Linked DNA regions of Homo sapiens: region 2 is linked to region 1. The links come from fine-mapping of genetic effects on gene expression. A gene starts in region 1. The other region holds a variant in brackets. All regions are shown on one strand. Distances are from middle to middle. Region 1 holds the start of GPR157 (G protein-coupled receptor 157). Region 2 has its middle 18 kb from the start of SPSB1.

The links. PIP is the estimated chance that this variant, and not a neighbour inherited with it, causes the effect.
Region 2: its variant is the best candidate, but not a certain one, in a credible set for the expression of GPR157 in whole blood (TOPMed, PIP 0.54).

What each region holds. Positions count from the first base shown.
Region 1 is chr1:9,127,334-9,131,719 of GRCh38, reverse strand. It overlaps GPR157 (G protein-coupled receptor 157), which reads left to right and starts at 2,618. Exons shown (of 4, transcript NM_024980.5): 1 at 2,618-3,075. The coding sequence starts at 2,693. RefSeq lists enhancers at 741-830, 1,121-1,240, 1,261-1,330 and silencers at 2,032-2,351, 2,412-2,761.
Region 2 is chr1:9,272,586-9,276,971 of GRCh38, reverse strand. No RefSeq gene overlaps it. Among named protein-coding and RNA genes, the nearest start is that of SPSB1, 18 kb to the left of the region's middle. The variant G/A (reference allele first, on the strand shown) is at 1,692.

The DNA of each region.
Region 1 (4,386 bases):
CACAATGAGGAACAACTTCACACCCACTAGGATGGCTATTATCACAAAGATAATACAAAATGTAGGAAGGCTGGGTGAGGTGGCCTCACGCCTGTAATCCCAGCACTTTGGGAGGCCAAGGCAGGAGTTTGAGACCAGCCTGGGCAATACAGTGAGACCCCATCTCCAAAAAAAAAATTAGTGGGGCCCAGGCAAGGTGGCTCACACCTGTAATCCCAGCACTTTGGGAGGTTGAGGCGGGCAGATCACCTGAGGTCAGGAGTTCAAGACCAGCCTGGCCAATACAGTGAAACCCTGTCTCTACTAAAAATACAAAAATTAGCAGGTTGTGGTGGTGCACACCTGTAATCCCAGCTACTCAGGAGGCTGAGACAGGAAAATCGCTTGAACCCGGGAGGCAGAGGTTGCAGTGAGCCAAGATCACGCCACTGCACTCCAACCTGGGCAACAAGAGCGAGACTCAGTCTCAAAAAAAAAAAAAAAAAAAAATTAGTGGGGCATGGTGACATGCACCTGAAGTCCTAACTACTGGGGAGGCCAAGGTGGGAGAATTCTTAAGCCTAGGAATTTGAGACTGCAGTGAGCTGTGGTTGTACCTGCACTCCAGCCTCGGCGACAAGACCTTGTCTCAAAAAAAAGTTTTGGAAGAATGTAGAGAAATTGCGACCTTCATTGCTAGTGCAAATGTAAAATGATATGTACAGTCACTTTGGAAAACACCTTGGCAGTTCCTCACAAGGTGAAATATAAAGTTGCGTATGGCCCAGCAACTCCATTCCTAGGTATACACATAGGAGAATTGAAAACATACACCCACAAAAAAACTTGTATGCAAATTTTCATAGTGGTATTATTCTTAATAGTTAAAAAGTGTTAACAACCCAAATGTCCATCGGCTGATGAATAATAGCTAAGTAAAATGTGGTATATCCTGCCGAGCGCGGTAGCTCATGCCTGTAATCCTAGCACTTTGGGAGGCCAAGGCAGGCAGATTGCCTGAGCTCAGGAGTTCAAGACCAGCCTGGGCAACACGGTGAAACCCCACCTCTACTAAAATAGAAAAGAAATTAGCCGGGCGTGGCGGCGTGTGCCTGTAGTCCCAGCTACTCGGGAGGCTGAGGCAGGAGAACTGCTTGAAGCCGGGAGGCAGAGGTTGCAGTGAGCCGAGATCATGCCACGGCTCTCCAGCCTGGGCGACAGAGGGAGACTCCGTCTCTAGAAAAAAAAAAAAAAGGTGGTATATCCATATAATGGAATATTACGGGGCAGTAAAAGGAATGAAGCACTGCATATGCTACGATGAACCTTGGAAACGTGCTAAGTTAAAAAAGTCAGACATAAAGGCCACAGAGCATATGAGTCTATTTACAGGAAATGTGCAGAATAAGCAAATCCACGGTAGAAGAGTGGTTGCCAGGGCTGTCGGGGAGAACTGAGGGCTAACAGCTGAGGGATAAGGATTTCTTTTTGGGAGTAATGACAATGTTGTAGAATTACATAATAATGATGGTTGCACAAACTTGTGAACATACTACTGAATTGTTCGGTTAAGAGGGCCAATTTTATGGTATGTGAATTACATCTTAATTACAAAGTTTGAAATTTTTAAAGAAAAAGCCATGCCCTGCCTAGCATTTCATTTTTTAAAAATCACACCTAGTTAGCTATGGTTTTTAAAAAATAGCATGCTTATTTTAAGAAAAGGTGGAAACGCCGGCTTCCCCAAGTCACCACCAACTTGTGAACACGTCGGGATCACGGCTGAAGGAATGAGGATCATACCCGAGAGCTGTTTCTGTTGCTAGTGGAAAGAATGCCTCTGATCCTCACGCCCTTCCACTCACAACACACACAGAAGCTGGCTGAAAAGAGGGAAAGTAATATTAGCCCTAAAAATGCCAGCCCTTCCTCTCACAGGACTGGATGTCCCAGACACCTGGCAAGAGCAGGGGTGGGCCTGGAGGAGCGTGGAGGGACAGGTGCTGGGACCTGGGGGTGCCCTGAGGTAGGGCTTAGGGACCTAGGGGCTTAGGGGCGTGGTGTGAGGGCGTGGGCGGGGCTCAGGAGCCTCGGGCACCGGGTGGAGCTTGGAAGCCTCAGGGGCGTGGCGGGGGCGGGGCTCAGGGCCCGGGGCAACGGGACGAGGAAGGGCACCTGAGCCAGGGTCAGGGCCCGGAACACAGGGGTGTGGCGGGGTGCGTGGGCGGAGCGGGGCGCGTGGGTTAGGCTCTAGGCCCAGGTCTCTGGGCCCTGTGGACAGGGGATCGGGGCGCGTGGGCGGAGCTCTAAGTCCCAGTCTCAACGCGGGGGCACACGGGCGGGGGGGGGGCGTGTGGGCGGGAAGGGCATGTGGGCCGGGGGACGTGTGTCCGGGGCTCGGATTGTGGGCGGGGCTCAGGGCCTGGGACGGCGGGACGGGGCTGGGAGTGTAGGCGGGGCTTAAAGGCCGGGGTACCGGGGTGGGGCGCGGCGCGTGGGCGGGGCTCAGGGCCCGGGATATAGGGGCGGGGCGCAGGGCGTGGACGGGGTTCAGGGCCCGGGGCCCAGATGGGCGGGGGAGCGGCCGGACGCGGGCGGGGCGGGCGCCTGGACGCGAGCCTAGGGCGCCTCGGTGCCCAGACGGCGGCGGCGTGGCCGCACGCGCGGCCCGGCTTCTGTCCTCGCGGCGCTCCGGCTCCTGGCCCCCCACGCCATGCAGCCGTCCCCGCCGCCCACCGAGCTGGTGCCGTCGGAGCGCGCCGTGGTGCTGCTGTCGTGCGCACTCTCCGCGCTCGGCTCGGGCCTGCTGGTGGCCACGCACGCCCTGTGGCCCGACCTGCGCAGCCGGGCACGGCGCCTGCTGCTCTTCCTGTCGCTGGCCGACCTGCTCTCGGCCGCCTCCTACTTCTACGGAGTGCTGCAGAACTTCGCGGGCCCGTCGTGGGACTGCGTGCTGCAGGGCGCGCTGTCCACCTTCGCCAACACCAGCTCCTTCTTCTGGACCGTGGCCATTGCGCTCTACTTGTACCTCAGCATCGTCCGCGCCGCGCGCGGGCCTCGCACAGATCGCCTGCTTTGGGCCTTCCATGTCGTCAGGTGGGTGGCGGTGGCGCTGCTTTTCCAGGAGCCCCCGACACAGGCCGACCCCTCCCGGTCTTGCCCTCCCAGAGGCCGCGTCTAGGTTGGACACCCCCTACCCACAGCAAGCAGTGCCTGCTGGCGCCCCCGAGGCTGTCCTGGGCCAGCGGGAGGAGGCCAGCCTTGCCCGAGATTCGCTCCCTCCCGAAGGAGCCCCGCTGTGCCTGCCCCAGGGCACAGCCCCTTGGGGTAGTGGGGACAGAGTTCGCCCCCAGAGCCGGGCCCTGTTTCCTTGGACGGGGCTGGGGAGGACACTCTGAGCCCCTTGTGACCTGCTTCACTGTGTCCTGGCTGTCTCTGCTGCCCATGGGGAAACAGGCTGGGAGACGAGTTAGGTAACTGTCCCGGGCTGGAGAGCCGGCAACTGCCAGTCCCACGCCACCACCCCACCCCAAGCCACAGTGAGCTTGGTGCACTCCGCCACTCCCGAGCTGCCGTGTCTCTGCTGTACAGTTTACAAAGGACTGTGCTTTTTATTCTGTCTTTGGTCGTTTCTAGCCTCAGGCCCCAGCCCCTTGTATTTCTGTTCTAGATGATCTTGACTTTCCAGAGTTCAGCAATTCTGAGATTGAGGGCAGGGGCGGAGGGCTGGTCTGGGAGTCTCGGAGTCCTCCTGGAGTCTCTCTGAGAGTGGGGAAAAGCCAAGACCTTACTTTGCGATTCAAGCGTCTTTCAAGTAAGCCTCGCTGAAGAGGGTCGGCCCTTCCCTGGGGAATGTCAGGTTTTGAAAATCTCATGGCGTCCTGTGCTGTGCTGAACTGAGGGCAGGAATCCTAGGGGCTGTTTTCCTTTTCTCCTTCTCCCAGATCAGAGCATCAGATACTGCCCTAATTATAGGTCCTTTCTATTAAAAACTTAAGTGCATTCCAAGGACTGCGAGCACAGTCAGCACTTTGGCAGAGACAGGTCACCTGGGTGTCACACGGCAAGGCTACAGGGCTGTAAGAGTCGCTTGACCTTCAGTTGTGCACTGAGGCCGGCTGGTCCTTGAGAAACTAAGTGACCTGCTTCTCAGCTGTACAAGTAAAAAATCTTTGCAACACATCATCCAAACCGAGGCTCAGATGCTGCAGATGGAATAGGGCCCTGCCTTGCCTTGCCTTCCCGGCAGCATCCCATCTGACCCTGTCTGGGTCCCGTGATGGCTGGCTGGGTGTGGGCCCCGAGTACACGGGAGATCGTGTGTACTTGGAAGGAGTCGAGGCTGTACCTCTCTTTGCAAGAACCTGTTCTCTTTCCCTTCTTGTCTTTAAAAATATTGAATACAGT
Region 2 (4,386 bases), 150 kb before region 1:
CTGCCTACATAGCAAGTGACCTGGGGTTTACGCCTTTCTCCTGACCTAAAGCTTTTCTGGGCCTCCACCTGTGCCTGGGCTATCTCGAGAGTCTTCTAAACCCTCCCTTCCTTTCTTTTTTAGGCCATTGGCTGTTATTGTGATTTAAATTATATCAGCATTTGTCTTCCATTACAAAGAAATTTGTACCTACTGGGTCATTTTATTTTTATATTTTTTCATTAGAATATTATATATACATATATATTTTATTTCAATTGCCAACAAATGGTTTTTCGTTACGTGATGAATTTTTTTGTTTGTTTGAGACAGAGTCTCACTCTGTCACCCAGGTTGGAGTGCAGTGGCGCAATCTTGGCTCACTGCAACCTCCGCCTCCAGGATTCAAGCAATTCTCCCACCTCAGCTTCCCAAGTAGCTGGGATTACAGGCGTGCACTACCACGCCCAGCTAATGTTTTGTATTTTTAGTAGAGACGGGGTTTCACCATGTTAGTCAGGTTGGTCTCAAACTCCTGACCTCAAGTGATCCTCCTGCCTCGGCCTCCCAAAGTGCTGGGATTACAGGCGTGAGCCACTGCACCCGGCCCAAGGTAGTTTTTATACATAAATAGAAATCCAAGGGGAGAAAATTCACCCTTAACAAACTGCCTTCCCTTTGGGGTAGAAGTGAGAAGGCAGACAAACCTCGGCTATGTGCCCCCCATAATTAAATTCACAAAGAGAATAAAGGAAGAGGACGATAGAGCAGCCCAGGCAATAAAGATAAAAGTTACCCCTCTGGACCTGCTCTCAGGATTGGCAGACATTGTTCTAGTCTCCTAGATTTGGTGGCAGCCAGCAGGCCTTGGTGACAACTCCTGCCCCAAGTGAATGATGTTCTCTGCTGTGGCTCAGTAGGAAGACACTTCCCCAGGGAGAAGCCAGAGCTGAGCAAACTGGATCCCAATCTTGGTTGGAGTCCTGACCTGGGGGCCCTGGGGGCCTGATACAGACTGGAGATGTAACACAGTGTCTGGCAATGGGTCGGCTGCTGGTGGCTGGAGCTGCGGGTTTGCCCAGTGTCAGCTCTTCCTCTCCCTGGAGTAGCTGCTCCTAGTGTGACCTGCTGGTTACGGGAGTGCACTAAGGGCTCGGGCAGACTCTAGCAGCGTTGCCACTTGCCAGCTGTCATCTCGGGCAAGATAGGTGACTTCAAGCCTTGGTTTCGCATCTGCAAACTGGGAGCCTCTTACCCGAGCTGTGAGTCAGCTGTTGTGGGGGTGGTGGCCTCTTACCCGAGCTATGAGTCAGCTGTTGTGGGGGTGGTGGCCTCTTACCCTCTTGCGGTGGCAACCTCCAAGCTGTGCATTTGTCCTGCAGGAGGGCAGTGGTGGCCTTCGAGATAGTGCCTTTATCGTCTTTAAAGTCTTTGGGTTAAAATGGTGAGAGCTGGCAGGGGCAGCAGAGGGTAAGGAAGACTCTTTTGAAGATGGATGGGTGAACCCCAAATAAGGGAGCAATGCAAGACTCAAGAGAACAAAAAGCATACGGCCCAGGAAGACGGGGTCTTGGTTCCTTGGTATCCCCTGGAACAGTGCCCAGCCCTGAGCCAGCAGTCAGCAGTTGTTAGGACCTGAGCCCCGCGTGCTGGGCGGTGCAAGGCTGTGTGGTCAGCCTGCCTGTCCACATGCGTGAGGGACAGATGGACAC[G/A]GCCAGAATATGGGGCAGCCCTGGCCCCAGTAAGAGAAGGACACAGAGAAGAAGGGTGCTCCACAAGCAGGAAGACAAATGAGACGTGGTCATACCTCCATCCTCCCGGACAGCAGACGGTGCCTGGAGTTTGGGCATTAGAAGTGGGAGGCAGCCAGGTGGGAGCCCACAGGAGGCAAGTCGGACAGAGCCAACAAGGAAGGAACAATGAAGGATCCTGGAGAATAGCAAGAAAAAATAATGTGCCTACAAAAATCCAGAGTTGGGGCCGGGAGCAGTGGCTCACACCTGTTAATTCCAGCACTTTGGGAGGCCAAGATGGGTGGATCACTTGAGGTCAGGAGTGCGAGACCAGCCTGGCCAATATGGCTAAACCCCATCTCTACTAAAAATACAAAACAAAACTTAGCCAAGTATGGTGGTGCACATCTGTAGTCCCAGCTACTTGGGAGGCTGAGGCAGGAGAATCACTTGAACCCAGGAGGCAGAGGCTGCAGTGAACCGAGATCGCACCACTGCTCTCCAGCCTAGGTGACAGAGTGAGTAATCTCAAAAAAAAAAAAAAAAAAAAAAAAAAATCCAGAGTTGGAAGCCAGGAAATGGGAAGTGATGGAGAATCAATGTCCGTATTTGTCAAAGTCAGTAGACACCCCCAATCAAAACTGATTCAGGGAGTTAAAAATCACATTAAAATTCATTAAGGACTTCAGACTTAATGTTTTTCCATAAACTACTTTTTTTTTTGAGACAGAGTCTCGCTCTGTCCCCCCAGGTTGGAGTGCAGTGGCGTGATTAGAGCTCATTGCAACCCCCACCTCCTGGGTTCAAGCGATTCTCCTGCCTCAGCCTCCCCAGCAGCTGGGATTACAGGCACCTGCCACCACGCCCAGCTAATTTTTGTATTTTTAGTAGAGACGAGGTTTCGCCATGTTGGTCAGGCTAATCTCGAACTCCTGACCTCAGATAATCTGCCCGCCCCGGTCTCCCAAAGTGCTGGGATTACAGGCGGGAGCCACCGCACCTGGCTTTTCATACACTTCTAATGTTAAAGAGACCTTTTGGGAAATGATATTGATTGTGTGACAAAATATATTTCTGAATGGAATGAAATTCCTTCAGTTTCTAGTAAAATTATTAATGCACTATTATTTATTAAGTATTAAGATTAAAATTAGCATCAAGAGGAGGATCCCATTTTTACGAAATATTTTGAATCTTCTATTTGCATCCGTGTCTTGAAGGATGTGCACCCGTTGTTACTGTTGTTCGTTTCTGGAGGGCTGGACGACAGTGATTTTCTTTACACACATTTGTGTACTTTTCTGCACTGTTTCAATGCATTTGTAACAAGCATGTGTGATTTTTACAAAAATATGTGTGTCCAGGTTTTTGCCATCAAAAAATATATATATTTTTTTCTTTTAAAAAAGCAAATATAAAAAGGCCTCATACAGTGAATGCTGAAGGGGGCAATCTCCATGGATTAATATTCTCATCCGAGTGCTTACTGTATTTTATTTTTTTCAGTAAAAAAATAAAGACATACGGAGTAGGAGGAGGGCCTGACTGATAGCATGAGCTTAGTTTGATAATTTTTCCTCCCAACGATGCTTCTTCAGACAAACAGAACTCATGAGGCTGGGTTTCCGCAGCCAGTGAGTGGGGACGGGGGAAAGGAAAGGGCTGTAGTGAGACCTCTCCAGGGGGACAGAGCAGCCCTAAGCTGTTGGGGGCCCCCCTGGCTGCCATCCCTGCTGCAGCGTCCAGCAGTGGGCGCTGACCGTGGCTTTGCTCTCCATCAGCAGCCAGTGGGAGCTGTCAGGAGCGGGGGTCAGACCTTGCCCTGCTTCTGCGTGGCCCTATCCCACGGTGCCAACAAGCGTGGTGGCCTGCCATGGCTGGACCACATCCATTGCACCCCTAGGCCCTGGCCACTCTGGGCACAGGAGACCCATGTGCTTAGACCCTCCCTCCCCTAGAGAGGATGACACGTGCCAGGCTCACCGCTGGCCCCACACCCGCTCAGGCCTCCACCCCTCCAGCCGCCTTGCTGACCACTCTCTTTCCTTATTGCCATTCACTCATTCATTCACTCACACATTCACTGCAGGGCGGCGTGTAAAGTGCCAGAAACACGAAAAGGAGCAGAATGTATGGAGTCTCTGCCTTCGTGGTCCTCAGCCCGACAGGTGAGTGGGAAGATGGGGGTAAGAGAGGGCATGGGTGGAGCCGCATCCCCTCCCCTTCTGCTGGGAGCTGGGTGGCGAGGGGCAGCTGGCTGACCCCACCCGGGCTCTGGCTGTCTGTAAAGAGCTTGTAAGAGACCCTGGAGAAGGTGGACTCAGGCTGGCAGCTCCTGAGCTTGTCTTCACCACGGCTTCTTTTATGATTTGCGCAACTCTTCCCCTCCTGCCCTTCCATCTGTCCCTGCATCTCCAAAACTATGGTCTATCAGGAAAACAGTTCCAATTAAGCAAGAAGAAACTGATGCTGCACAGCAGGGGCCACCCAACTGGTGTTGCCACACTGGACTGCTGAAACCCTGACCCCAAACAGAAGGATCTGTCCTCTTGGTTCATGAGAATCACCTTCTTACTTAGGTCAGTGTGGGGTTTCTGCTGGGCTTCCGGAAATACATAACAAAGCTACTAGCTCCAGTATCTATTAAGTTCTGCTGCTACAAGGTAGTTTAGGC